4 separate regions of the Homo sapiens genome follow, and all the other regions are reported to be linked to region 2. The links are microRNA targets in miRTarBase. Many come from high-throughput screens and were not tested one by one. Region 2 holds a microRNA gene; each other region holds the end of a gene's coding sequence.
Evidence for each region. The annotated mature microRNA hsa-let-7g-5p reads UGAGGUAGUAGUUUGUACAGUU and lies in region 2 at 3,989-4,010, shown strand. An mRNA with a match to its seed (bases 2 to 7 or 8) in the 3' UTR can be bound and repressed. Matches are read on the target gene's strand: a 7mer-m8 pairs with bases 2 to 8, a 7mer-A1 pairs with bases 2 to 7 and ends in A, and an 8mer does both.

Region 1: miRTarBase lists PLD3 as a target of hsa-let-7g-5p. Seed matches in the 3' UTR shown: 7mer-m8 at 2,697-2,703.
Region 3: miRTarBase lists HAND1 as a target of hsa-let-7g-5p. Seed matches in the 3' UTR shown: 8mer at 3,026-3,033.
Region 4: miRTarBase lists CASTOR2 as a target of hsa-let-7g-5p. Seed matches in the 3' UTR shown: 7mer-m8 at 4,611-4,617.

What each region holds. Positions count from the first base shown.
Region 1 is chr19:40,375,617-40,382,994 of GRCh38, forward strand. It overlaps PLD3 (phospholipase D family member 3), which reads left to right. Exons shown (of 13, transcript NM_012268.4): 11 at 993-1,158; 12 at 2,170-2,269; 13 at 2,370-2,869. The coding sequence ends at 2,557. It overlaps HIPK4 (homeodomain interacting protein kinase 4), which reads right to left. Exons shown (of 4, transcript NM_144685.5): 3 at 4,707-5,552; 4 at 3,655-4,153. The coding sequence ends at 3,971. Among named protein-coding and RNA genes, the nearest start is that of MIR6796, 9.5 kb to the left of the region's middle.
Region 2 is chr3:52,264,968-52,272,345 of GRCh38, reverse strand. It overlaps MIRLET7G (microRNA let-7g), which reads left to right and starts at 3,985; the gene lies at 3,985-4,068. It overlaps WDR82 (WD repeat domain 82), which reads left to right. Exons shown (of 9, transcript NM_025222.4): 2 at 1,537-1,634; 3 at 5,328-5,394.
Region 3 is chr5:154,470,710-154,478,087 of GRCh38, reverse strand. HAND1 (heart and neural crest derivatives expressed 1) reads left to right here. Exons shown (of 2, transcript NM_004821.3): 1 at 1-622; 2 at 2,178-3,116. The coding sequence starts at 80. The coding sequence ends at 2,282. Among named protein-coding and RNA genes, the nearest start is that of HAND1, 3.8 kb to the left of the region's middle. RefSeq lists enhancers at 1,187-2,041, 3,712-4,683, 4,684-5,655 and a silencer at 2,196-2,383.
Region 4 is chr7:75,022,177-75,029,554 of GRCh38, reverse strand. It overlaps CASTOR2 (cytosolic arginine sensor for mTORC1 subunit 2), which reads right to left. Exons shown (of 9, transcript NM_001145064.3): 8 at 5,021-5,115; 9 at 1-4,921. The coding sequence ends at 4,856. It also overlaps a transcript of RCC1L not described here. Among named protein-coding and RNA genes, the nearest start is that of RCC1L, 48 kb to the left of the region's middle.

The DNA of each region.
Region 1 (7,378 bases), not on the chromosome of region 2:
TCCAGCCTGGGCGACGGAGCGAGACACCTTCTCAAAAAAAAAAAAAAGAAAAGAAAAAAAAAAAGAAGGATAACAACCATACCCACTGCAACATCCAGGTGGATGATGGCACTTGTGGGGCTCAAAGAAGGTATTCTAGGGGCAGTAGATAAGACAGTGGGTCCAGGCATGGTGGCTCACGCCTGTAATCCCAACACTTTGGGAGGCCGAGGCGGAAGGATCCCTAGGAGTTTGAGACCAGCCTGGGCAACATAATGAGACCCCGTCTCTATAGAAAAATTGGAAGATTAGCCCAGTGCGGTGGCACTCACCTGCAGTCCCAGCTACTCAGGAGACTGAGGCAGGAGGATCACTTGAGCCCAGGAGTTGGAGGCTGCATTGAGCTATGGTCGTGCCACTACACTCCAGCCTGGGTGATAGAGCAAGAACCTGTCTCAAAAAGAAAAAAAAGAGGATGGACCGGGCACAGTGGCTCACGCCTGTAATCCCAGCACTTTGGGAGGCCAAGGCGGGCAGATCACCTGAGGTCGGGAGTTCGAGACCAGCCTGACAAACATGGAGAAACCCCGTCTCTACTAAAAATACAAAATTAGCCAGGCGTGGTAGCGCATGCCTGTAATCCTAGCTACCCGGGAGGCTGAGGCAGGAGAATCGCTTGAACCCAGGAGGCAGAGGTTGCAGTGAGCCGAGATTGTGCCATTGCACTCCAGCGTGGGCAACAAGAGCGAAATTCCACCTCAAAAAAAAAAAGAAAGAATAAAAGAGGATGACAACACTGGGTTTTGGGGAGCAGGAATGGGAGCCACAGCCAGGAAGAGGAAATAGGGATGTGGGATTTATGGAGACAGGAACAGGGTCTGGGAGCCAGCGATGAGGAAGTCCTCTCAATAGCTAAAGCAGGGCCCAGGCTTGGTTCCCCAAAGCTGAGGGCAAAGCCTGTGGACACAGCCGCCCTCTGCATCCTGCCCCACCTCCTATACACCCGTCCTCAGGTTCTGGCCTGCCATTGACGATGGGCTGCGGCGGGCCACCTACGAGCGTGGCGTCAAGGTGCGCCTGCTCATCAGCTGCTGGGGACACTCGGAGCCATCCATGCGGGCCTTCCTGCTCTCTCTGGCTGCCCTGCGTGACAACCATACCCACTCTGACATCCAGGTGGTAAGTACTGCCCCAAGCCACCCCTTGGCCCCTGTGTGGGGCAGTCCTAGGGACACAGCCCTCATGGGACTCGTCTGTCAATGACAAGGGCAGCCCAGAGTGAGCCCTGTCACTGTGGGGAAACCATGGGTCAGGGCCAGGGTCATGGGGCACAGGGAGAGGGGCCAGGACCGGGATGAGGGGGCACAGGCAGAGGGGTTGGGACCGGGATGGGGGTGCAGAGAGAGGTGTTGGGACCAGGAATGGGGACATGGGCAGGTAGAGGGGTCAGGGCTGGGATTGGGAGCACAGGCAGAGGGGTCAGGGCTGGGATGGGGAGGCACAGGCAGAAGGGTCGGGGCCGGGTTGGAGGGCACAGAGAGAGGGGTTAGGGCCAGGGTTGGGGGCACAGGCAGAGGGGTCGGGGCCAGGATGGAGGAGGCCCAGGCAGAGGGGTGAGGGCTGGGGTGGGGGGCACAGAGAGAGGGTTTGGGACCAGGACTGGGGGAGTGGGCAGGTAGAGGGGTCGGGGCTGGGGTTGGGGGCACAGGCAGAGGGGTCAGGGCTGGGATGGAGGAGGTACAGGCAGAGGGGTCAGGGCTGGGATGGGGGGGCACAGGCAGAGGGGTCAGGGCTGGGATGGAGGAGGCCCAGGCAGAGGGGTCAGGGCCAGGGTCGGGGGGCACAGGCAGAGGGGTCAGGGCTGGGGTGGGGATGCCCAGAGGAAGCCTCTGCCCTAGCGGGAAGGGCCAAGGAAGATGTTCTGGAAATGGGGGCATCTGAGATGAGACCTCAGGAATGAACAGGAGCCATTCTGCCGGGAACAGTGTTTTGCAAATGAGACCACCGGGGCCTCCCTTTCAGCTTTCGTTCTCAGAGGGCCCCTCCACCTGGCCCTGTTCTGGCCCCCGAGGATTCTGTGGGAAGCAGTGGAGTCCCACAGATCTCGCTCCACACTCTGCTCCCTGATCCCGGGGCTCCTCCGACTCCCCCTGCCTCTCACACTCCTTCCCATCCTCCCCTCCCACTCAGAAACTCTTTGTGGTCCCCGCGGATGAGGCCCAGGCTCGAATCCCATATGCCCGTGTCAACCACAACAAGTACATGGTGACTGAACGCGCCACCTACATCGGTGAGTGTCTTGAGCACCACGGGGCGCTGAAGAAGAGGGGGTTCAGACACCAGGGGCGGCCCCCCGAGGGTGCCCTTATGCTCCACCCATTCCTCTCTAGGAACCTCCAACTGGTCTGGCAACTACTTCACGGAGACGGCGGGCACCTCGCTGCTGGTGACGCAGAATGGGAGGGGCGGCCTGCGGAGCCAGCTGGAGGCCATTTTCCTGAGGGACTGGGACTCCCCTTACAGCCATGACCTTGACACCTCAGCTGACAGCGTGGGCAACGCCTGCCGCCTGCTCTGAGGCCCGATCCAGTGGGCAGGCCAAGGCCTGCTGGGCCCCCGCGGACCCAGGTGCTCTGGGTCACGGTCCCTGTCCCCGCGCCCCCGCTTCTGTCTGCCCCATTGTGGCTCCTCAGGCTCTCTCCCCTGCTCTCCCACCTCTACCTCCACCCCCACCGGCCTGACGCTGTGGCCCCGGGACCCAGCAGAGCTGGGGGAGGGATCAGCCCCCAAAGAAATGGGGGTGCATGCTGGGCCTGGCCCCCTGGCCCACCCCCACTTTCCAGGGCAAAAAGGGCCCAGGGTTATAATAAGTAAATAACTTGTCTGTACAGCCTGTGCCTGACTGAGTGGTGTGAGATGGGGTGCAGGGGTAGGGGACAGCTGGCATGGGCCTCTGGTGGGGACATCTTTTTGTGCTGAGCCCTCAACATGTCACTGGCATGTGCTGAGCCCTCAGTGTGTGACCAGTGTGGGTTAGCATGTACTGAGCCCTCAGCATGTGCTGGCATGGGTTGGCATGTGCTGAGCCCTTAACATGTAGTGTACATGGGCTGACCTGTGCTGAGCATGCAGCGTGCCACCCTGTGGCCCGGCATGGACTTAGCACTCATGTAGCCAGCATGGGTATGTGCTGCAGAGAAGCATGTTCCCAGATTGATCAGCAGGGACCAAACCATTGCCACATCCCAAGGGTGAACAAGCATGGCTGAGCACCAGAGTGTGCACCAAGTGTGAATTTAGGCCTGCCAAGTGGATTTACACCCAGCACGTCCCAAATGTGGGTGAGTGCATGCCAACCCTGTAAACATGTAGGAAGGACAGGTCAACAGACAAGGAGACCCCAGCATCCGGCAAACTTGATTAACACATACTGAACACAGCATGTTCTGAGGGTGGATTCCCAACACGCCAAGCACATAGCGTATTTAGGACAAGGGTTAGTCAACCAAGCACAGCTTTTCCCTCCTAGTGTGACAGCAGCCCAGGCTCCCGCCTAAGCCAGTGGTCAACTGGGCCCAGCATCGCAGAGCAAGTCACTGGGTGCCAGCCTGGAGCCCCCATTCCCCCCAGGGCCAGTCCAAGCCCCAGGCAGTGAGAGCAGGCTTGAAGCAGGACTGCTGAACAGTTCTATATTGAAATAGACAGAGGCAGCAGGGCCAAGGGCGAGCGCAGGGCCAGCGGGGTGCAGCCCCCTTTCCTGCTGTCCTTCTGGCCAAGGAGCATGGGCCAGACTCCAAAGCCCTGCTGTGTTTAGGAGAGGTGTGCAGGCACGCACCGCACCGCAGACGGGGAATGAGAATTTCTGGATAACTATCTTTCTGTAAGAATAATTTGTGGGTTCAGGAGATGGCTCTGAGGAGCAGTTCAGGTTGGGAGGGAATGCCAGCCCAGCTAGCGCAGCCCCCAGTGATGGGCAGGGGTGGAATCACCATCAGTGGTGCCCGGTGACATGCTGGAGGAAGCTGGTGGCCCCCCGGGGTGGACCATGCTGGTGGGAGCGGCGGGGTGGGAGCCCCTGAGCCCGTGGGCCCCTGACGCTCTCCAGGGTGCAGTCTGGCTCACTCAGCCATTCTCCAGGACAGCTGCTGGGGTCGAAGAGCTCAGGGTCTGGCCTCTGTGGGGGAAGAGAGAGGGGCATCAGCCAAGCAGTGTTAGTGTATTAGTGTCTGCTGAGCCTCTGTCACCTCCTCCTGATGAGGGTGAGCATGTGCTAGGGTCTTACCAGTGCTGGGCCTTTATTGCCCCTTTGTAGTGATGTGATGACAGCTCACTGCAGCCTCGACCTCCCTGGCTCAAGTGATCCTCCCACCTCAGCCTCCTGAGTAGCTGGGACTACAGGTGCATGCCACCAAAACCAGCTAATATTTCTAATTTTTTGGTGCAGACGGGATCTCACTATGTTGCCCAGGCTCTTTATCAAGCTTCTTATAAGTAGATTACTGTGCCCTGAGTTTTTGTCACAGCCTGGAAGTAGCTGAGTAAGTGCTGAGCCTTATCATATCTTGACGGTATTAGGTGTGTGCTGAGCCTCCTAAGTCCCTAATTGTATCCTGAACATGGGTGAGTGTGTGTTGAGCCTCCTCACACACTAATCATATCCTGAGCACGGGTGAGTGTGTGCTGAGCCTCCTCCCACCCTAATCGTATCCTGAACGCACCCGGCTCACCTCAGCTTCCATGGTCATGTTGTCAATGTTGGGCCCATCCTCATCTCGCTGCAGGATGGCCAGTGGCTCAGCAGAGGCCCCGAGATGCTCTCCTTCCTCCCAGCTGCTGCCCCGGCAGGGCCTGTCATCCTCAGGCGAGACCTGGCTCAGCCGAATGAGGTTGCTGAAGTTGGAGTCGGACTTGGAACCCGCAGGTGGCTTGCGGGCCTTGTGGCGGCCTGCCAGGCGGCTGCTGTAGAAGGCCAGGATGGGCTCAGGGCCCGAGTCGGGCACATGGTGGCCAGTGATGGCTGCCTTGAGGGGGACCATCATGTCGGAGACCGCATTGGTGCAGGTCTCACCCCACAGCCCATGCCCAGCCTCCTGCAGACTCAGGTCATCCAGCTGGTCGATGGCTCTTTGCATACCTGGTGCCTTCTCCTCTCGGAAGAAGGGGCTGCTGCCGGCCACACTGCCCATACCCGCAGCCTCCTTCTCCTCAGCCAGACAGTAGTAGGGGGTCCCATCTTCTGCGGCCACGACGGGCGTGGGGGGCTTCCCCTCCACTTGCAGCGAGAGGCGGTAGCTGCGCAGCGAGAGCTGGTAGTAGTGGGTGGTCTCGTGGGCACTGCGCAGCTGCTGCATGGACACGAAGGGGTGGCGCAGGGCAGCACTGGGGCTGATGCGTTCGTGTGACTCCCAGGTCAGCATGCGCTTGATCAGCTCCACCATGCTCTTGAGGTCGGCGTGCTCCGCCAGCGCCTCCCGGTCAGGGAAGGTTAGCCGACTGGCCACACTGCCACCATTCACTGTCTCAATCTGGTCCAACGACTTGAGCATATACTTGCGGCGCTCCAATGGGCGCACCTGGCGGGGCATGGAGAAGGGGGCAGGGTTGACCATTGTGCAGGGCTAGGGCCCTGGGCACTCCTGCTGTGGCACCCACATGTAGCCCCGACTTCCAGGTCTGCCCATGATCTGCCTTGGAGCTCTCTGGCTGCTAGGAGGGCCACCCTGGATCCGTCACACCCAAGCCCCTCTAATCGAACCCAAATCACTGGCCCAAGTTCCACCCCTTGCCCCAGACCTCCAGTCCCCTTCAGCACCATGGGTGCAGCCCCTACCAGCAGCTAGCAGAAGGGCTGCCCGGAATCTCTAGTCCTCCCTGGAATCAAATCCAGGTCCCTCTTACTGCCACAGCTCCACACTTGATCCCAGGCCTCCTGGTGGTCAAACCCAGACCCTTCTTGCTATAGTAGTTTGTCACCCCCTGCTATTAAACTGCCATTGACTTTTAGTCTCACCTGTGGTCCCATCCAGACCCTTCTTGCTGTGAAATCAAGACCTATGACCTCAAACTCCTAGTCCCCTCTGCTGTCTAACCCAGGCTCTTGCTGCACAGATGGGAGGGGCAAAGCCACAGAGGTAGCAGACTGGCTGCTGCCCCAAACCTCTAGACTCACCTGAGGTCTCACTCAGATCCTTTTTTTTTTTTTTTTTTTTTTTTTTTTGTATGTGTGTGAGACAGAGTTTCACTCTTGTTGCCCAGGCTGGAGTGCAGTGGTACAATCTCGGCTCACTGCAACCTCCACCTCCCAGGTTCAAGCGATTCTCCTGCCTCAGCCTCCTGAGCAGCTGGAATTACAGGTGTCCACCACCATGCCCAGCTAATTTTTGTATTTTTAGTAGAGATGGGGTTTCACCATGTTGGCCAGGCTGTTCTCGAACTCCTGACCTCAGGTGATCCACCCACCTCGGCCTCCCAAAGTGCTGGGATTACAGGTGTGAGCCACTGTGCCTGGCCTTAGATCCTTTTTTTTAAACAGGGTCTTGCTGTGTCGCCCAGACTGGGGTGTAGTGGTGCAATCATAGCTCACTGCAACTGCCAACTCCTGGGTTCAAGTGATCTTCCCACCTCAGCCTCCCAAGTAGCTTGGAACTACCGGTGTGTGCCACCATGCCTGGCTAAATTTTAAAAAAAATTTTTTCTAGAGACACGGTCTTGCTATGTCGCCCACAATGACTTCAAGTGATCCTCCTGCCTTGGCCCCCACCAAAGTGCGTGGACTACAGGCATAAGCCACTGCACCTGGCCTCTCTCGCAATTCTCATAGCCAATCTCAGACCTCATATATTCTCTGTGGTCTAATCCCTCTTGCCACACAAGTTGCTGACCCCGGAGCTGAAGCTGGCAGAGAAGCTGCCCCAATCGTCCTGTCACACTTATAGTATGACCCAGATCTCTCTTGCTAGAGCAGCCCCCACATCTGACTTCCAAACATCTAATTCTCCCTGCAGTTTCTCCCCCAGATCTATCTTGCTGCAGTTGCTGACCAGTCCCACATTTGATCTCATGCAGCTCTTTCTTGCTGTGAAAATGCCCTAGGCTGACCCCCAAGTTCCAGTCCTCATTGAGGTTTAGCCCAGAAATTTTTTTTTTCAATTATTAAAAAAATATTTTTTTGGCCGAGCGCGGTGGCTCATGCCTGTAATCTCACTGCTTTGGGAGGTCGAGGTGGGTGGATCACGAGGTCGGGTGTCTGAGACCAGCCTGGCCAACATGGTAAAACCCCGTCTCTAGTAAAAATACAAAAAAATTGCCGGGTGTGATGGTGGGTGCCTGTAAGCCCAGCTACTCAGGAGGCTGAGGCAGGAGAATCTCTTGAACCTGGGAGGCAGAGGTTGCAGTGAGC
Region 2 (7,378 bases):
TCTCAAACTCCTGACCTCAGGCAATCCACCCTCCTCGGCCTCCCAAAGTGCTGAGATTACAGGCGTGAGCCACCACGCCCAGCCTAAAATTTTTCTAACTTAACCAGTATGTGTTAGAGTTTTTGGTTAAAGGTTCTGTTGAGACCAGTTTTAGCCTTGCTCTTCAAGGTTCTGTAAAGGGAGACATTTAAGGAACTTCAACAAATGGAGATTGATAACCTCTAGCTTGGAAATGTGTGATTTTTTGTCTGTTATTGAGGTGGAGTCTCACTCTGTCGCAGAGGCTGTATTGCAGTGGCACGATCTTGGCTTACTGCAACCTCTGCCTCCTGGGTTCAAGGAATTCTCCTGCCTCAGCCTCTTGAGTAGCTGGAATTACAAGTGTGTGCCACCACACCCGGCTAATTTTTGTATTTTTAGTAGAGACGGGGTTTCACCATGTTGGGCTGCTCTCGAACTTCTGACTACAGGTGATTTGCCTGGCTCGGCCTCCCAAAGTGCTGTGATGACTGATGTGAGCCACCACCTTGTGGCCAGAAATGTGTGATTTTGCTTTAAAGTAAAAGCAAAGGAACTATTTAACTGGTTTTGCTAGAGAAAGTTAGGCTTGCCTTCTAAAAGGCTCAGCAAGCGCTTTTGACCTGTAGGATAGGAAGGATGGATGTCTTCTGCAAGAGCAGGTTACATTAGCAAAGGCAAGCAGTTTTGCATCTGGTTTCAGTTTTGAGGAATCACTGCCGTCTTGAAAAAAAAAAACACAGAGCTTCTTTCTAAATGGATGTCTTGAGAAGAAAAGTTTGGCCTCTTGGGTTTGACATATTCTCATATCCCTCTTTGTTGTAAGTTAAGACTTGTTTTGTGTGCCTTTCTTCCCAAGTAGATGTACAGCCATGCATCACTTAGATGGGGATCATCACGTGAGTTTTTGTTGCAGCAGCATCATAGAGTGTACTTACACAAACCTGACGGTATAATCTGCACACACCTAGGCTGTTTGGTATGGCCCATTGCTCCTAGGCTACAAACCTGTACAGCATTTTACAGTACTGAATACTGTAGGCAATTATAATATAGCGTTAAGTGTTTGTGTATCTAAACATAGAAAAGGTGCCGTAAAACAGTTTAAGGGATTTAAAAAATGAAACATCGGTTGTAGAGGGCAGCTCTATTATAATCTTATGAGACCATTACCCTATGTGCTGTCTGTTGTTGATAAAAATGTCATCACATGGCACATGATTGTATTTTTTCTCAAAGCTTTTGAACATTGTAGTAAAGACTGAATTGAATCCCCAGATTTACTTTTACTTCCCACCTAACCTTGCCACTAGGTGTTCTAAGGTGGAAAGCTTCTTCAGATGGCTGTTGCTTGAGCGTTGTTTTTTCCCTTTTGGAAGAAGTTGTTTCTTTCCAGTGTTAGAACTTACCAAAAATCCTCACCTTTGCCACATCATTCAAGTGCTTCTCTTTATGTGGAGATCCCAGATTTTGATGATGGAGAATGTTCATGATTTTCTGTCTCTATTTTCTTATCAGACCAAAGAGAACCCTGTACAGTAAGAAATATGGTGTGGACCTCATCAGATACACTCATGCAGCAAACACAGTTGTTTACAGCTCTAACAAAATAGACGGTAAGCAAGCCTTTTTAGGAAGTTAAGGTCATGGTTTCCTTTGTTAAATAGTTCATGGAATCTTTGTGACTACTTCTGCTTTGTGACTACTTTAGTTTAAGTATTTTCATATAATGTTAGTAATGTTAATTGCATTGTTTTGACTGAAGGAATGCTGGAAGCAAGCCATTGGCACTTTTGAAGGACTTGGGACTGAGTATGAAAAGTCTTCAATTCAGAGTGGGGAGTGGAAAAAGGAAACAACTAATTGTGTTTATGATTTGTACTTCCTGACACTTAAAAGAACGCTTTTAAAGCCGGGCGTAGGGGCTCGCGCCTATAATCCCAACCTTTGGGAGGCTGAGGTGGGCGGATCACTGAGGTCAGGAGTTCAAGACCAGCCTGGCCGATATGGTGAAACCTTGTCTCTACTAAAAATACAGAAGTTAGCTGGGCACAGTGGTGCACGCCTATAATCCCAGCTACACAGGAGGCTGAGGCAGGAGAATCTCTTGAACCCGGGAGGCAGAGGTTGTGGTGAGCCAAGATCACGCCATTGCACTCCAGCCTGGGCGACAGAGTGAGACTCCATCTCCAAAAAGAACACTTTTAGAACAAATAAAAGGAAAGAACACTTGATACACAGCAAGTGATAAACAACAGGACTTTTTCTTTTAAAATGATAGAGATTTGAGAAAAGTTTCACAAATGCTTGAACTATGATAGTTTAAGGGAAGTTAGAACAGTTTTGGTGTTTTCCCAACCTTAGTCACTTCTGATTCCAGGAACGTTTTTTGATCTAAAGAGTAGAGTTACTTTTAGAAATTGAACTTGTGAGTTTCTTTCTATAATAAACAATCTCTGTTTTTGCCTGCATGTCTCGAGATAAATCCTAAGTTAACAGATTGTCTTGGTAACTGAACTGTAACACTTATTTTCATGTTAGAATTCTTTAATTTTTTAATTTTGTTTATTTTCTTTTGTTTGTCTGTTTTTATTTTTTGAGACAGAGTCTCACTCTGTTGCCTAGGCTGGAGTGCAGTGGCGCGATCTCAGCTCGCTGCAACCTCCGCCTCCCGGGTTCAAGTAATTCTCCTGCCTCAGCCTCCCAGGTAGCTGGGACTACAGGTGCATGCCACCATGCCTGGCTAATTTTTTGTATTTTTAGTAGAGACAGGGTTTCACCATGTTAGCCAGGATGGGTCTTGATCTCCTGACCTTGTAAGCCACCGTGCCCGGCCTATTCTTTATTCTTTTGAGACAGAGTCCTGCTCTTGTTGCCCAGGCTGGAGTGCAATGGTGCAATCTCGGCTCACTGCAATCTCAGCCTCCTGGGTTCAAGCGATGCTCTTGCCTCAGCCTCCCAAGTAGCTGGTATTACAGGTGCCCACCAACACGCCCGGCTAATTTTTGTATTTTTAGTAGAGTTGGGACTTCACCATGTTAGTCAGGCTGGTCTCGAACTCCTGACCTCAAGTGATCTGCCTGCCTCATCCTCCCAAAGTGCTGGGATTACAGGTGTGAACCACCACGCCCGGCCAGGATTCTGTTTTTAAACTTATTTCAGTGGATTATTGATGATCATCTCACATTTTGCAGTAAGGTTTTTTTTAGGCCGGTGGCTACATAGTGGCTCATGCCTGTAATCCCAGCACTTAGGGAGGCCTAGGAGAGTGGATCACTTGAGCACAGAAGTTCGAGATTAGCCTGGGCAACTTGGGAAAACCCCGTCTCTACAAAAAATACAAAAATTAGCCAGGTGTGATGGGACGCGCCTGTAGTCCCAGCCACTTGTAAGGCTGAGGTGGGAGGATTGCTTGAGCCCTGGAGGTCTAGGGTGATCACACCACTGCACTCCAACCTGGGTGACAGAGCGAGGCTCCATCTCAAAAAAACAAAAAAGATTTTTCTAATGTCATTCCACAAGGATAGCTTATACTGCTATTTTGGCTGTGCCTATCTCAGAGCAGAATGGGCGGAAGTCCTTTTTTCCATTTTTTTTTTTTTTTAATGAGACTCTTCTGCCTGTATTGATTTTTAGTTAAGTATGTCATTTCTACTTTTCATGCCTGTATTTCAGAAGTGGTTTTCTAAGGAAGCAGTGTAGTTAATGATTTTGGAAAAGAATGTAAAACCTTAGGATCCTGAGGAAACATGTCTATGTGATCATCCGAATGACTGGTTTATTTCTTCTGTTGGGATGTTTTTCTGAGTGATTAAATGAGGATTCTCCAAATGTGGTGCAAGATGAGGCAAATGTGTGGCACTTGTAGCTTTGCTGCCAAGCCTCTGCTGTGAGGATGTTCCCTTTCCTGTCTCAAGTGCATCCTGAAGAGTTCCTCCAGCGCTCCGTTTCCTTTTGCCTGATTCCAGGCTGAGGTAGTAGTTTGTACAGTTTGAGGGTCTATGATACCACCCGGTACAGGAGATAACTGTACAGGCCACTGCCTTGCCAGGAACAGCGCGCCAGCTGCCAAGTGGGGCTGAGAGGATGGCGTCACCCTGCTCATCTCTGGGAAACCAGGTAATGGGGAGGAAGTCTTTTTCTTCTTAGGGCAGGTGAGTCATTGTTAGCAGTAGAATAACTAGAAATACTTCGTAGTTGTCATTCAAGAAGTTTGAAGATGTTTTCAAGGAAAATTGTGTAGTGTTCAAGTTATGGAATATACAAATATCCCTATTCCCCTATTCCCCCTCCCAAGTTAAATGCCCTCTTATTAGAAAGCACCCCTGTGAACCCCTGGGATGACTCGATGCTTTCAACCCCTTTATTCCTATGTTCTGTTTGCCTTCAGAATGTTCTTTCTATGGTTTTCTTTCTGCATTTTGGTACCATTTTCCCTTAGCTGTTTCTCAACAATTTTTCCTTATTCCTAGTCTTTTTAAGGGGATAATACTTTTCTATTTTGCAGTTTTATTCTTTATGGCACTTCATTTCTCTACCGCCACCATGTTTTTTGTTTGTTTACTCTTTCAGATAGAATCATTTGGTTAAGAGTGTCTTATTTTTCCACAAGCACAAATCTCTGATTGTTCCTTTCTTTAATATTGTCAAAATCTCACTGCTATTACTCATTGGTATAAGAATTTGATTTTTTTAATGTCTTAAGATCTTTTTAACCCAGATCTTGACATCACTTCTCTGACGTTTTGTTTATTTTCATTGTAATTTGTGTGTCCAATTGAAGAATGTTCAAATGAGTTGAGGGTGGGTCAACATACTGATGGAGAACTCTAGACAAAAATTGCTGCCAGGGTTCAACCTGATCTTCAGTTTAACTGCCATGGCTGCTCACCTCTTTAAGTCTGTTAGCTCAACAGCCACATATTTTTCTTTAAGGTTTGCCATTCTGTGGACACTAGACCAGTATCTAAAATTATTATGTGTGCTTTACTTGTTTTTGTTTTTTGACCAGGGTATATTTGCAGGGTGGGAGTTGCATTGTAATTATGAAGAAACCAAATTGGTAATAAAAGGTCATTTCAAACATTGCTTTCTATGCTGTCAACTTAAGAACTCTGCTTTTGAGTTAGGTGAAATCTACATACCCACTCTTCAGCTGCAGAGTAGAATTATTCACCATTATTTATTCATGCCTTGCTTGGGATATAGAATACAATGGATTATTTGACCTTGTCTTTTTAAGATGAAAATGTAAAGTAAATTTCTTTTAAATAGTATGATATCATCATACCTTGTTTGTCTTTTTACAGATACTATTCGTTACTTGTCCTTGCATGACAACAAATACATCAGATACTTTCCTGGACATAGCAAAAGGTAAGACCCACGTATTATAGAAGCAGATAGTTCTTTTATCCCTGAGGTTACCCAGAGAATAGAAGGCTAGAGAGAGCTTATTAGTGAACTGAAGCTACTTCCTCACTACTGCTTGGCATTCTTCATCTTCTCTTAAATAGTCAACTCTTGATTTACTGAGGTTATAGAGGTGCAGAGGTAGGTGTTCAGAGATACCTCAGTTAAAATATAACTAGGCCCAGTGCAGTGGCTCACACCTGTAATCCCAGCACTTTGGGAGGCCGCGGCGGGCGGATCACTTGAGGCCGGGAGTTTGAAACCAGCCAGGCCAACGTGTCAAAACCCCATCTCTACTAAAAATACAAAAATTAGCCAGGTATGGTGGTGGACACCTGCAATCCCAGCTACTCGGGAGGCTGAGGCAGGAGAATCGCTTGAACCCAGGAGGCAGAGGTTGCAATGAGCCGAGATCGCGCCACTGCACTCCAGCTTGGGCGACAGAGTGAGACTCCGTCTCAAAGATATATATGTATATATATTTTTTCTAGTTATAGGTATATCTATTTCTAGTTAGATATATATATTTCTAGTTTTATATATACATATAAAACTAGAAAAAATGTGGATTAAAGATATTCAGTGAAAACTTATGTAGTAAAAATTAGATTTGGCATTTAGGAATACCAAATCTCACATATCCCTTAATAAAGGACTGTTTGTGTTTATGAGGCCTTCCAATATATGTGGCCCCCATTTCAGTGGGCCCCTATGTAAAAATGTTCCATTTAAAGATCTTAATGAGAATGCAAAAGAAAGTCCTTTTTTTAAAATCAAGAAGTTTATCTCCTTTTTCTGTATTGTAATGCAGGTTGCTTCTCTCTGTTCTTCACCCCAATGCCCCTAGTTACTTTTTTCTCTAATTTTTCAACTTTTCTTTGAATGTTAAACACGTTTTCCCCTGGATAATATTTTAATCACTTGGGGTATTTTTTCCTGCATCCATTTGCAAATGTACAGTAACCCAGGATGGTTTCGATTGGTATGGAGCCCTGACAGGAGATGGCCTGAGAGCCTCCTGTTAGAAATTGCACTTCCAGGCCAGGCGTGGTGGCTTAATGCCTGTAATCCCAGCTCTTTGGAAGGCTGAGGAGGACAGATTGCTTGAGTGCAGGAGTTCAAAACCAGGCTAGGCAACATGGTGAAACCCTGTCTCTACAAAAAATACAAAAATTAGCCAGGAGTGGTGGTGTGCGCCTGTAATTCCTACTACTTCGGAGGCTCAGGCACGAGAATTGCTTGAACCCGCGAGACAGAGGCTGCATTGAGCCAAGGTGGCGCCACTGCACTCCATCCAGCCTGGGTGACAGAGCAAGACCCTGTCTCAAAAAAAAAAAAAAAAAAAAAAAGTTGCACTTCCAGTTGGGCAGGCCATTTGTGTTGCTGAAATAAAGGTGAAATAAGGTGGCAACCAGTGGTAACTGGTTTCAGACAAAGGATGGCTCATGATAAGTAGATGTTTTGCTTGTTTTTATTCAAATTAATGTTCACAAATGTACTATTTGTAATTAAGAGTTGATGCAGTTGTTTGACGTGCTTTCCAGTCTTCCCAATTATTCAACCTCTTGACCTCCTGATTCTTTTTTTTTTTTTTTTTTTTTTTTTTTTTTTTTTTTGAGACAGAGTCTCGCTCTGTCGCCCAGGCTGGAGTGCAGTGGTGCAATGTTGGCTCACTGCAGGCTCCGCCTCTTGGGTTCACGCCATTCTCCTGCCTCAGCCTCCTGAGTAGCTGGGACCACAGGCACCCGCCACCAAGCCCCGCTAGTTTTTTGTATTTTTAGTAGAGATGGGGTTTTACCGTGTTACCCAGGATGGTCCCTGATCCGCCCGCCTCAGCCTCCCAAAGTGCTGGGATTACAGACGTGAGCCACCGCACCCGGCTGGCCGACCTCCTGATTCTTGATAGATGACTTTGTCCCTCCTTTTATGAGAAAATCAAGGCTATACA
Region 3 (7,378 bases), not on the chromosome of region 2:
CAGGTGGCCCCCGGCAGTCTCTGGGGCGCATGGAGCGGCGTTAATAGGGCTGGCGGCGCAGGCCAGTAGCCGCTCCAACATGAACCTCGTGGGCAGCTACGCACACCATCACCACCATCACCACCCGCACCCTGCGCACCCCATGCTCCACGAACCCTTCCTCTTCGGTCCGGCCTCGCGCTGTCATCAGGAAAGGCCCTACTTCCAGAGCTGGCTGCTGAGCCCGGCTGACGCTGCCCCGGACTTCCCTGCGGGCGGGCCGCCGCCCGCGGCCGCTGCAGCCGCCACCGCCTATGGTCCTGACGCCAGGCCTGGGCAGAGCCCCGGGCGGCTGGAGGCGCTTGGCGGCCGTCTTGGCCGGCGGAAAGGCTCAGGACCCAAGAAGGAGCGGAGACGCACTGAGAGCATTAACAGCGCATTCGCGGAGTTGCGCGAGTGCATCCCCAACGTGCCGGCCGACACCAAGCTCTCCAAGATCAAGACTCTGCGCCTAGCCACCAGCTACATCGCCTACCTGATGGACGTGCTGGCCAAGGATGCACAGTCTGGCGATCCCGAGGCCTTCAAGGCTGAACTCAAGAAGGCGGATGGCGGCCGTGAGAGCAAGCGGAAAAGGGAGCTGGTGAGTCCTGGGGCTTGCATGCTCCAGCCAAGGGTGCAGGAGCGGTGAGCAGCCTCAGGCCATGCAGGTAGTCGAAGGAGGCTGTGTTGTCCTGTGTCCGATTTGGAAAGGTTGGGAAGAGTTCTGAGATGGTTGGTCACAGCGTGCGATCCTGTGCATGGAGGGAGGCAGATTCGTCATAGAATTCATTTGTAATACGGGAGAGTGTTTGTAATACTGAGTGAATAATCTGTTTGGAGCCTCGGACCCTCCAAAAATGCACACACCACAGGTTTTGCTTCCAATTTGGAGAAGTCCTGATTCATTCCTGGGCTCTCCTGGAAGCCAGGTTAAGAATATGTGTTAAAGTTCTTTACTTTGAGTTTGAATTTATGTGCCCGGGCTCGGTTCCTGTTTTCAAAGGGCCTTTGCTGGACCGGCTAGTCTACTTCCATCATTGTATAAATAGGGAAACTGAGGGCCCAGAGTGGGTCGGGGCAGGAAAAGCACCTATCTGAGGAGTCCAGGGTGGAGGTGAGGTAAAACAGATCGGGTCTTCTACTCAGTCCAGGGCCAGTTCTGGTTCTCCCCATGGACTGGTTCTGAGGACGACTTCAGTGGCTTTGCATGTAAATAAGAGCCACTTCTTTTAGCTTTGGAGAGCGCAGTCTCGTCTTGGCCTTCTTGATCCTCTCCGGTTAGGGTGACACTTCCTGGCACTCGGTCTGGCTGTCCGGGGCTGGGGGCTTCTGAGCGCTGGGTTTTCAGGCTGGCCAATCAGTTTCTCTAGGTTGGGGGGCTTAAGGCCGTAGCGGAGTGGAGCCAGCTGAAGCGCCCCACCTGGTTTATCCAACCTGCGGGGGCCTGTGGTAAACTGACGAAAGCTCATCCAGGGACGAGGGAAAGATAAATAGGCATCGAGTCTCTAAACGGCTGCCCCGGACTGGGGATGGTGCAGGCCGGCTTCTTTCGAGGTGCGGCGCCTCGAAAGAAGTTGTTATTGGGCGGATCCCGGCCCCCACGCGTCGCCGCCTCCTTCAAGTAGCACCGCTTGGTTCCTGCTGAAAGAGCGGGAAGGAGGACGCTAGGCCAGCTCGACTCCCCGCTCTTTTACCTCCGTATCTGAGGCTCCCAGCTCCGGCTTAGGGGGCCCCAAGCCTGCATCCAAGCCCTGATGTTTAAACCAGGTTGGGAGGCTGGCGGAAGTGTGTGGGGTGCAGCGAGAGCGGGAGAACCGTGGATTTCCACCCCTCCCTTCCAATATCCTGGGATCTCCCTTAGGTGTCCTAAAGCCAAATCAACGCGCGTCAGTTTCACCAGACGCAGAACATTTTCCTTACCAAACCTCCCGAAGCTGCCCAGCCCATCCCGGGTCCCAGGAACTCCGCGCATAAAGGCAAATTTACGAGCCTGTTTGCCTATTTCGCAAACAGAAATCCGTCACTTATTTAAAGACTCCCAGTTACTGCTCCCGACACCTTCCCCTCCTCCTCATCTTACCCCATGCCGGGCGATCGGAGCAGAAAAATTAAAACCTGTCTCTCCCGCCTCTTTTCTTCTGTGTGTCCTTTGGCAGCAGCAGCACGAAGGTTTTCCTCCTGCCCTGGGCCCAGTCGAGAAGAGGATTAAAGGACGCACCGGCTGGCCGCAGCAAGTCTGGGCGCTGGAGTTAAACCAGTGAGCCGAGGCCCGCGCCGAGGACCTGGCCAGGCCAGCCACTCCTGAAGCCCCGGGAGGAGAGGAAGGCAGCGGCGAACGCCAGGCTCTGGGCTCCGGCGACTGGTGCTACGCATCCCGCGGAGCTTCTGCTGAGCGCCGGCAGGTCGTCGGCTGCAACCACACACTTGGATCGCACGTGCAATGTCCTTTGATTTTTTTTAATACATTAAGAGAAAGAGAAATATATATATATCCACCCCCAGCCCAACCGAGGGCGGCCCTTGGCGGCAACATGCAAGAAGGAGGGACTGTCGAACCCAAGGGCTCAAAGACGCACTCTTCCACCCTTTTGGAGCGAATTTAGAACCTCAGCCCTATCTCCATTTCCCTATCTGGCTCTTTCTCTCTTGTCCCTCCATATGATCCGCCCCGACGCCGTCTTCTCTAATTAAAATGCAATAAGGAATCAATTCTTTTCTGCCTGAGAAAGAGAACCAGACGCAGGAAGATGAAAGGCTGCCCTTTGTTCTTCGAATCGTGGTGGTTTTATTTTATTTTTCTTTTTGTCGCTGCACTTCCTGTTTAGTTCCAAGGGAAACACTTTCTCTCTTTCTCTGTCTCTCTCTTTTCTTCCTTCTTTTCCTTCCTTTTTGTTTCTATCTAAATAAAAGCTTTCCCTGTGTTGGAAAGTTTTTATGTATTTAAACTACCTACCATGCCTGTTGTGCTCAGGTGTTTGTTCATCCTGCCATCCCCAACCCTTTTCTACCTCAAGTCTGTGTGACCACTCACAGCCCCCCTCCCTTCGCCAAAGCAGTGTCTATGCTCTTGATTAATAAAACATTTTCTGAAATCATCTGAAGCCTGTGTCATGTCTCAACCGGGGTCCCTCACCGACTCCCATGGCTTCTGCTAGGTGGAAAGCCTCTGTTCCTGCTCCTCTTCTTTTGATAAACACGAAACCAAACTTGAAATCAAGGGAAGCCGGCAGATAAAGAATGTATTTCAAGAACAAGAGCAAAGTTCTCTTTAGACTAGAACGGGAGGTGGGGGTAACTTATGGGAACGGGGAAGAACAAAAACGGAAACGAATTAGTCTCAGAGGGCCTGGGCTCGGGTTTTTGTGCGTTGAGTATTCGTGCTTGTCTGGAGGTTAGTATGCCCACTGGTGTCTGCAAAGAGTGGTTTGGAGTGTTTATTGGGAGGGAAGGGGGCCTAGCACACAGGTGAATCCTATCCCTGGGGCAGGGTAGCTCAGGAGAGGGGGTGTTGGTGGGGAATATGTTCATGTATGTGAAATTCTCAACATATAGATGTACATGTGACAGTGCAGCAACTCATACGGAGCCTGAGGCTGTGCAGGGGCCAACAAGGGTCTGCTTAGTACAGCTCCAAGCACACAGTAAGGACTTGACAAGTCACAGCAGCTATTATTATTTTATACCTGAGTAAAATAAGCTTGTGAGTGCTTATATGTTAAATTGAGGTATTTAGGTTTCTCTTTAGCAACGAAGCACTCGACAGAAGGTTGTGAGAGCATATGGATTTGTGCAAAGGGATGGGGTGTATGTGTGTATGCGTGCTCATTCGGGCACTTGTGCAGGAGAGCCAGTCTTTGTGTTCTCTCATGCGCACCCATGACTAGGTGTGGTGGGTATAAATTCGGTGCATTTGCCAAGGATCTTGGATGCGTATTGGGCTAAACTGGGGCGGGCAAACGCAGTGGTTTATACTTCCAGGAATAATAATGTACGAATACTTTGGTTGCGTGCAACTGTGTGCTAGGCACTGCGCTAAGCACTTCTGTGTCTCCCAACAGCTCCCATGGTTGCCCCACGGAGCGCACGCTCTGCAGCGCCTGAGGGTCTGCGGCGCTCACTGCGAAGGAGGAGGGGAGACCCGTGAGGCTGTCTTGGAACTTTCGCTCTGCGCACCTGGAGCCTGAGCGCTCGGCTTGGGAACAAGAAAGGAGACCTCAGGCAGCTCCGGGGCAGGGCCTCGTGGGGCACCAGGCGTGCCCCAGGCGCCTTGTCCCAGCGTCGGGGTGAATATGGGACCCCATTAGTCTTGGCTGTAAACACCGTAGCAGGGGCCGAGAGGCCACGCGGGCCTTTCCGGACGCGAAGGAGTTAATAAAAGGTGTTTTATGGGCGCTAGGAAACAGTGGGGGAGGTGTGAGCTTCTCTCTCTACTCTCGCCCCCCTACTTTTTTCTTTTTTCCCTCTCGCCACCCGCCGCCAGATCAAACAGGCCCGCGATTTAACTAGGGCAACACTTGGCGGTAATGAGCCTGTCCGACGCACCCCTTCCTCGGCCTCAGTACCCGGCCCGAGGCCCCAGGGCCCTTGGGGAGGAGCAGAGAGAAAAATCAAAGTTTCTTTCTTGTTGTTTTGTTTTTCTTTTCTTTACCTTCTTTCTTTCCGTTTCTTTCTGGGAGTCCGTTTAGAAATTCCGGCGCGCATGGAGAAACAGACTCAGGGAGGGAGGTGATCTAAGCCCCACAGCACGGAGGGAAGCTTATCTAGATTCGAACCCAGGACTCCAACTTCGCTCACACACAAACCTCTGGCTATACACAGGTCCCAGCTCCCAGGACTATTTTTAGCACCGTGAAGTATCCTAGGCACGGGAAGAATGCGCACCCTGGTCTAGCTTTCTTATAGCCGGGGAAAGAAGAGGGGGTGCTGAGGGAGACCCGCCAGCGGCCGCCAAAGCCAAGTCTGGCATAACCAGGCCTCTTCAGAAAACCCAATCCTGCTGGCCCCAAACCCTCTTTGGGAAGAGAGCCTTGGAGCCCTAAACTCGGTCTCAGAAACGTGCAGTCCCTGAACCCGGGAGCCGAGACGGAGCCGGCGCCCATTGAGAGGGTCACTGGATAGTCCCCCACTCTCCCCACGCCTGACTCCAGCGGCCTCCCACGCCCACGCCACATCCCCAGCTCCCACCGCACAGCTGGAAAAGCCGAGCACAGAGAACGGCTCGGAGCTGCCCCAGGTTTCACAAACCATTCTGTGCTGAGGGTCTGCAGACTAGGGGTCCAGCCCTTCTCGCTGCCACCCTGGCTCTCCAGGCTCCCACCCCTCCTTAGCCCTCCCTTCTTTGAAAACATCTTTAGAGTCTAACGTTTAGTTTCTTCTTCTCTGCCCAGGTTTCAACGAGGTTTGTCAGACACCTCAAATCAGCTGTGGCAGAAGCAGGGTCATTATTTATTATTTTTGAATTAAATACATCTTTTTTAAAAAATGGGAAAAATGGAATGGTTACCAACTTAAAAGTAAATTCCAGGAGTTTACTGCAAGGAAATATTGATGTTACAAAACGTTAACTATAGGACTATTCTATTAAAGAGTGAAACACGAGAAAGAACCTGATGTCCTATAATTACAGAACTGGCTCAATAAAGCCATCAGTACAAGTGGGTTACTATTCAGCCATTAGAAAAAATGTGGGAATTGACATGGAAATTGTTCACGATATATTAAGTGAGAAAACCTCCTCCCATATTACACCAAACACTGTCCATTGTGACCCTTTTCATGTAAAAATAAAAAAATATTATTCGTGGAGAAAAATTGGAAGAATATACATCAAAACTTTCACACCTTTACCTCTGACTTGTGGGAATAAGGGTAATTTTGACTTTTCCTCTTGCTTAGCCATATTTTTCTTAAATGTCTTATAATGAATAAGTATTACTTTTGCAATAAAAATTAAGCTGCAATTTCCTCTGTTGCCAGCATACTTTCAATACACCATTTATTTAACATACATTTATTGTGTGCCCACCATGTGCTAGGCACTGTGGGCATAAATATAATGAAAAGATCCTAATAACGATCAATTAACATACAACAGAAAATATTTGTCCTGAAGAGTTTATTATTCCTCGTACACAGCAAATAGTCTTTTTTTCTTACATTTAAAGTCTATTGATGAATGGAATAGTAACAGCTAACATTTATAAAGAAAAGTATTTAAACTCAGCATGCATTATTTCATATAAGCCTCACAGGGTTCCGTGAGGTCAATATTGAGGGAGCTGAGGCGTAGAGAGGTGAAGGATTTTGTCCAAGGTCACATGGATGGCAGATAGGACTTGTATCAAAGTGCAAACATGGCTACCTCCAGAGACCTGTTTCCCCCACATCTCGGAGCACCTCCAGGTGTGTGTGTGTGTGTGTGTGTGTGTGTGTATACATACATATGTGCCCAAATACAGTTTCTCTCAGTCTGATCTTCCTTAGTCCCCAAAGTAAGGTAGAGAAAAAAAGAAGGAAGGAGTTACGTGAAAGGATCTGGGATTCAAATTCCAGCATTCTCCTGGAACCCTCTTCCCCTGTCAGGGCTCTGAGTGGATCCCATCTAGAAAATGAGGAAAAGGGTAGGCTCCAAGGTGGTTTCCTGTTAGTAACATTCTGATTCCAGGAATCTACTTTCTCCTGGTGAGGAATTCAGCACGTTATTCTTTGCAGTAGTCTCTGGTGTTTGCCTGGCACATTTACCTTACCCGGGTACTTCCACTTTTATAAGTGCATTTTCCTCCCCATAATCTGGAAGACAGCCAAGGCAGGAATGATGCTCCCCATGGACAGATGTGGGAAAGGCAAACCCAAGAGAGTTGATGTGACCAGTTCAGGGTCACACAGCCAGTCAAAGGCTGAGCCCGGATTAGAAGGTGCGCCTCAAACCCAGGGTTCTTACGGAAAAGGCACTGGATACCTTCTGTCTATGCAACCATTGGTTAACCTTATAGTCTTGCTAAATCTTCACAAAAGAAACGAAACTAAGAAATCAGCCAATCTCATTTTTAAATGAAGAGTGACTGAAGAGAAAAAATATGCACGTTCTGAAGTGTCTGAAACCAGCCTCCTGATTTAAACCTGATTTGTTAGAAACAAAATTTTTTCAGCTGAGAGAGTTTTTACAGCTGAGCTCTCCCAAACTCATAAAAAACTAGGTTTATATGGGAAATCGTGAAAGACTCTTAACTATAATACACAGCATCTAATGTAAGCAGACGTAGACACTATATAAAGCTCCTACAAATGTTATTAAAACAAACAGAAATGCACATTTATCCCCACAAAATAGACAATGGAAAGCATCGGACTTTAGAGG
Region 4 (7,378 bases), not on the chromosome of region 2:
CTGGCCAACATAGTGAAACCCTGTCTCTACTAAAAATACAAAAATTAGCCGAGCGTGGTGGTGGGTGCCTGTAATCCCAGCTACTTGGGAGGCTGAGGCAGGAGAATCACTTGAACCTGGGAAGCAGAGGTTGCAGCGAACCGAGATCGCACCACTGCACTCCAGCCTGTCTCAAAAAAAAAAAAAAAAAAAGATCCCCCCATTGCAGGGCTGAGGTGCTCTTGCCCTAAAGCCCCCTCTCTTAGCTGGGGCTGGGAAAAGCCCTGGTTGTCACCACATCCAGATCTCTAGGCTCAGAAAGGGGCCCAGGGTGGCCTTAGGACTCCCCAGGGTATCCCTGGAAAATGTGGCCAGGAGGAGGGGGCCAGTGGGAGGTGGCCTGTGTTCACCTTTGAAGATCACCAAATAGTGCCCTGGGCTTTAACAGGGGCCTGGCCCTTCCTGTCTTCCCAGTCTTCTCTCCTGACCTCCAGGGCATCCTCTGTCACCTCAGAGGGGCAAGCCCCTCCAGACCAAGCCTCCTCCTGCTGAACAAATGTCACCCTGGCTACGCTGCTGCTTCCGGAGGCCACACTGGAAGCCTCTGATCCCCCAGCTCCTTCCTTTCCCACCAGCAGCCTGGTGCCTGGAGGTGAGAGGAGGTGAGAATGCCAGTGGTTTGGAGTGAGGCTTTGGGTCCCCGCCTCTGAATCTTGGGGAGGGGAAGCTACCAGGGTCAGGCCTGCAAGCCTCTCCAGCTCAGATGCATGCCTCGGGCTGAGGACAGTGGTGTGGGCAGTGCCCCTTGAAGGAGGGCGGTCCTGGAGATGCCCATGGAGGAAGGAGGTGCAGAGTCAGCAATGCCCAGATCTTTGCTGGGTTAGGACGACGGGCTGAGGGAGGAAGGGGTGTCTTGGGAACCAGGGGAGCCCCACGACGAGGCAGAACTTATCAGTGGCAGGGAGGGGTGGTCACTGCTCTGTTCCTCCCCATCCTTCAGCTCCCACTGGTACTCTGAGTGCAGCAAGGGGAGAGGGTGGGGTTGAGACTATCTGAGCTTTTCTTAATGGAGAACCACACAGGGGCCAAGACACACACTCCAGGAGCTCAAGTGGCAGCCCCAGGGTCACCTGCTCACCCCTAGAAATTCCATGAGGCCGGGCACGGTGGCTCATGCCTGTAATCCCAGCACTTCGGGAGGCCAAGGTGGGTGGATCACTTGAGGTCAGGAGTTCAAGACCAGCGTGGCCAACATGGTGAAACCCCGTCTCTACCAAAAATACAAAAATTAGCCGCGTGTGGTGGTGAGTGCCTGTAATCTCACCTACTTGGGAGGCCAATGTAGGAGACTCGCTTGAACCCAGGAAGTGGAGGTTGCTGCAGTGAGCTGAGATCATGCCACAGCACTCCAGCCTGGGCGACAGAGCAAGACTCCGTCTCAAAAAAAAAAAAAAAAAAATTCCACATCATAGAGAGCCCTCTTCCTCCCCCGCCAGGCACCTGCCCCATCCGCCAGCGCCAAGACAACAGGCCCACTCCTCTGATTACCTCCGGGGGATGGACGGCAAACAGGTAAGGAGTTCCATGCAACTGCGGATGGAGCCCCTCTGAGAAACACATGCCCCTCCAAGTGGGGTCTGGGGCCTGGAGAGACCCTCCCACCCAGCAGACCAGGAGATAGCTGGGGGACAAGGGCAGACGGCCCCTGCCTGGGAAAAACCACACTCACACCCCACCCCGAAGAGCTGTGGAGACCAAACCAAGACTACGCTACACACAGAACGCCGAGAAGATAAACCAAGCTTTACACGAGCAGGATGGGGATGGGAAAACTAAAGGGGCCCCCTGTGACCGAGGAGCAGGGTCCCCAGGGGGCAGCTCCCACGGAGCGGGCTTGAACAGGGACCACCCCTGCAGAGCCAGCCAGGGCGGAGAGCCATACCCTGGCCCCAGCGCGCCCCGACACACATGCTTTTCTCCATGACACGAGGCCAGTCCCCAGGAGCAGCCCCAGGAGCACAACCTGAGATTTCTAAGCTTGCAGGTTACAAAAAACAAAAAAAACAGAGAAGCTGCCTGCGTAAAAAGTGCCACCCACGGAGGCAGGACACAGGCAGCGTGTGGCCCATTCAGCAGGCCCAGGTCTTCAGGGTGAGGCTGCTGGCGAGGGCAGGGGAGAGGGGGCATTCTGGTTAAAAGCAAGAAATTCCAAATACTCCTCCCTCGGGATCAACATCCCCCCAAATAAGGGCGCCCAGGGATCTTGCCTGGGGAAAGTGGGGTGCAGAAGGCATGACCCACGCCACAGCGGGCTCTCAGCACCCTTCCCACGTCCCATGTCACAGGCTCTTTGAGCTGCTGGCTTTGTTCTCTCAAGTCAGGTCTGAGGGAACCCATCGGCTTCTGTAATAATCGTATTGCCTATATACTTGAATTAAAAATATATGGTGGCTCAAATGTGCCCGCGTGTATGGCAGACGGTGCGGGGTGGAGGCCATCACGCCCATACACGTGTGCACACACAGCGGGGGGCTGTGTCCACGGACTGCGCACACAGTATATATTAACATATATATTGCTCAAGTATATATGCTATTTACAGTATATATCTCTATCAACATAAAACACAGGTATTTATAGGTGTGTACAATAGATACGTCCTAGGAAGTCTAGGGGACACACGACTCTGGGGTCACGGGGCCGACACACTTGCACGGCGGGAAGGAAAGGCAGAGAAGTGACACCGTCAGGGGGAAATGACAGAAAGGAAAATCAAGGCCTTGCAAGGTCAGAAAGGGGACTCAGGGCTTCCACCACAGCCCTGCCCCACTTGGCCACCTCCCTTTTGGGACCAGCAATGTACGAGTTTTGTTCTGGAGTTTTGTGCAAAACAAATTAACTTAAAAAAAAAAAAGTTGGTTTCTAATTAATGTGGTGGGCCTTCAACACCCACAAGGATTTTAAAGAACAGCTTCTCCTTCTGGTGGGCTTCCAGGGCTCAGAGGGTCCCACTCAGAGAAGCAGGGAACACTTTGTCAGGACTAGAAAATATCCCTTCTCCTCTGACCACAGAAACAGCACAACTCGGCTGGGTGTGGTGGCTCACGCCTGTAATCCCGGCATTTTGGGAGGCCGAGGCAGGCGGATCACTTAACTCAGGAGTTCAAGACCAGCCTGAGCAATGTTACGAAATCCCGTCTCTATTAAAAAATACAATAACTAGCCAGACGTGGTGGTGCGTGCCTGTAATCCCAGCTACTTGGGAGGCCGAGGCAGGAGAATCACTTGAACCTGGGAGGAGGAGGGTGTAGTGAGCCAAGATCGTGCCACTGCATTCCAGCCTAGGCAACAGAGCCAGACTCCCATCTCAAAAAAAAAAAAAAAAACCCCCGCCAGAGCCAAAACCACAGGGGCCCTTGGTCCTGCTCATTCAGAAAACCACCCCACTGGAAGGGACACCACGGCTAACCCCATGCCTCCTGGACATGACCACTCAGCTGGCCTGCCACCTGGCTGTCCACCTCCCCATGGCCCTCGGGTTCCCTCACCCCCTCCGGTGCTCAGATAGAACTACAGCTGGTTGGTGGGAGTTCCCATGTGGGGTGCCAGCGGCTCCAGCGTCTTGTAACAGATCTCTGCTCCTAGCTTCCCTTCAGAAGAGAGGGCCCAGGCTCCTGTGACATCTCCCGATTCCCACTGCCTGTCCCTGGAGCCACAGAGCACCAGCTTAGTGACACAGAGCCTCCAGGCTCCCTTGACAGAACTCAAACAGGTCCTATCCCTGCCAAACAGAAACTACCGCCAAGAGCACCCTGGGTGCAAATACATTAAATAAAAAACTAAAACAAAGTATGGTTTTCTCTATTAAGGCTCAGTTAAGCTGCCTCCTGGGTCAAGTACTCATGAATGCCACAGCCCCCAGCCAAGGGGCGGGTGGGCAGGCAGGTGACTTGGGGGCAGAGGAGGGAGGAGGACGGCGGGGAGTCCTATGCTGGTCTAGTTGTCTGTTGGGGAGGTGGGACACCACCTAAGAAACCTCAGGCCTGGAAAGCCAGGGATGTCCCTACTGGGGGAAGCTGAGGCTCTACCTGCCCAAGTCGGGTCCAGGGAGAGCCGAGGGGACAGGAGCTGGTGCTCCAGGCTGGTGGGTCTCCTGGGACCCTCCCTCCTCCCCCAAGGACTGAGTGCTTGTGGGGGAGGGTCTGGACAGGGCCCTCTTGGCAGTCTTGCTGGGAGTCGGGCCCAGGCCCTGTGGTTGGCAGGCGAGGTACAGGGGGAGTCTGGGTCCTTCCCAGCTCGGGGATCCCACCTGGGTTCCTGTCTGAGCCTCACCAGCCCCGATGACCTGAGGGGGCCACGCTGGCCTCCACTCCGAGGGAACCAGCCCTGAGCTGATGGAAGCAGAGACCAGTGACCACAGTACTCACCCCCAAACCCTCCAGGGCACCCCAAACTCGGCCCCACCCCGCCAGCCCCAGCCCTGCAAGGTGACATGACAGCTGGCACACCGGTGTCTCGCAGGAGGGACCGGCTTCCCTCGGCATCTGCCCCTGGCCGTGGGTGAGGCCGGATGAGAAGGCGGATCAGCTCACAAGCTCCCTGGGCCTCCGAAAGCATTTTCCGGGGTGGGGGAGGTAGGGAAGAGAAAGGTCGTTCTCTGGAGGGTCGGGGGGCTCCGGGAAGGCAGGAGGGCATGGAGAGGCCTTGGCGTGGGCCCCTGCCCTGGAGGGATTGGCAATCGAGGGAGTCTCCCACAGAGGCCCCTTCCTCAGGGTCCCCAGGCTGATTTTCCAGTCTGTAGAGAAATACTGCAAGATCAATCTTCAGGGTTAGGGCTGGGCCCGGGCGGCGGCAGGGAGGAGCAGAAGAGACCCTTCTAGTGCTTCTCTGCTTGGCTGACCTTCAGGGCACTGATGACACCATTGATGTTCTCTTCGGGGACCTGTGCAGGGGTAGAGGAGGCAGATGCCTGCCCGTGAGCCCAGGAACCTGCTTCCCCACCCCGGCCCTGCCCTGGAGGGGTCTGGCGCTGGACACTCACAAGTGCATGATCAAACTTGAAAGTACTGATGTAGTAGGCTGGGATGTCTGCAGCAGCCAAGGGCTCTGAGATCTGGGCCACGATGCCACACTCATCTAGAACAGGAGAGACCGTCCTTAGCCTCTGTGTAACCTGGCTACCCTTGCCTGTGTGGCTCTTCAGCCTCTACCCTCTGTGGGCAATGCCTACCCTGCACCCACCATCCTCCTAGAGAATTCCCATCTGCTATCCCTTTTATTTTTTTTGAGATGGAGTCTCGCTCCATCGCCCAGGCTGGAGTGCACTGGCGTGAGCTCACTTCACTACAACCTCCACCTCCTGAGTTCAAGCAATCCTCGTGCCTCAGCCTCCCAAATAGCTGGGATTATAGGCGTGTACCACCATGCCCAGCTAATTTTTTTGTATTTTTAGTAGAGATGGGGTTTCACCATGTTGGCCAGGCTGGTATCGAACTGCTGTACTCAAATGATCCACCCACCTCCACATCCCAAAGTGCTGGAATTACAGGCGTGAGCCACCGTGCCTGGCCTCCCACTGGCCATCCCTCTTGAAGGCTTAACCCAGATGTCCCCCAACCAGGAGCCTTCTCTGGTCGCTGGCCAGTGAAATAGTTTGGCTTTGTGTTCCTGCCCAAATCCTCCAATTGTAATCTCAAGTATTGGAGGTGGGGCCTGGTGCAAGATGACTGGATTATGAGGGTGGATTCCTCATGAATGGTTTAGCCTCATCCTCTTGGTACTGTTCTCGTGACAGTAAGTCCTCACGAGATCTGGCTATTTAAAAGTGTGGCACCTTGGCTGGGAGTGGTGGCTCACGCCTGTAATCCCAGCACTTTGGGAGGCCGAGGCGGGTGGATCACTTGAGGTCAGGAGTTCGAGACCAGCCTGGCCAACATGGTGAAACCCCATCTCTACTAAAACTACAAGAATTAGCCGGGCGTGGTGGCACGTGCCTATAGTCCCAGCTACTTGGGAGGCTGAACCCAGGAGGCGAAGACTGCGCCATTGCACTTCAGCCTGGGCAACAGAGCAAGATCCGGTCTCAAAAAAAAAAAAAACAAAAAACAAAAAGAAAAAAAAAATGCTATCCACCAAAGACGTTGTCTGGACAACTGTGGAAACAGAGGAAAGACTAAGTCTTAGGGAATGACTGAAAATTTTCTCCTGTGGAATCCTGTCATTGTGGTTATATAGGAGAAAGTGTTTCTTCTTTTTTTTTTCTTTTTTTGAGGTGGACTCTCGCTCTGTCGCCCAGGCTGGAGTGCAGTGGCGCCATCTCGGCTTGCTGCAAGCTCCGCCTCCCAGGTTCATGCCATTCTCCTGCCTCAGCCTCCCAAGTAGCTGGGACTACAGGCGCCTGCCACCACGACCGGCTAATTTTTTGTATTTTTAGTAGAGACAGGGTTTTGCTGTGTTAGCCAGGATGATCTCGATCTCCTGACCTTGTGATCCTCCTGCCTCGGCCTCCCAAAGTGCTGGGATTACAGGCGTAAGCCACCTTGCCCGGTGCTTCTTCCCAGGATGGAAAAGGCGAGGCATTTAGGAGTAAAGTGTTGGGTGTCAGACTCTCTGGGAGATATGTGACAATTACATGTATTTACGTGAAGAAAACATGTTAAAAAATTGCCAGCAGTTATTATCTTTGAGCTGTGGAAATAAGGAGTGATTTTTTTTCTCTTTAATTTTTATCACAGCCCCAATTTATTCTTTTTTAAATTAAATTTATTATTATTTTTTGAGACAGAGTCTTGCTCTGTTGCCCAGGCAGGAGTGCAATGGAGCGATCTTGGCTCATCGCAACCTCTGCTTCCTGGGTTCAAGCGATTCTCCCATCTCAGCCTCCTGAGTAGCTGGGATTACAGGCGCACGCCACTGTGCCTGGCCAATTTTTTGTATTGTTAGTAGACATGGGGTTTCGTCATATTGGCCAGGCTGGTACTCCTGACCTCAGGTGATCCACCTGCATCGGCCTCCCAAAGACCTGGGATTACAGGCACGAGCTAACTCGCCCAGCCTCTTTTTTTATTTTTAGAGGCAAAGATTTGCTCTGTCACCCAGGTTGGAGTACAATGGCATGATCATGGCTCACTGTAGCCTTGAACTCTTAGGCTCAAGTAATCCTCCTGCCTCAGCCTCCTGAGTAGCTGGGATTACAGGCGCCAGCCACCATGCCCAGCTAATTTTAAAAATTTTGGTAGAGACAGGGCCTCGCTATGTTTCCCAGGCTGGTACAGAACTCCTGGGCTCAATGGATCTTTCCACCTCGGCCTCCCAAAGTGCTGGGATTACAAGCACGAGCCACCGCGCCCAGCTGCTTAATTTTCTAATAATAAGCAACATATTAAATTTCAAGAGGGGG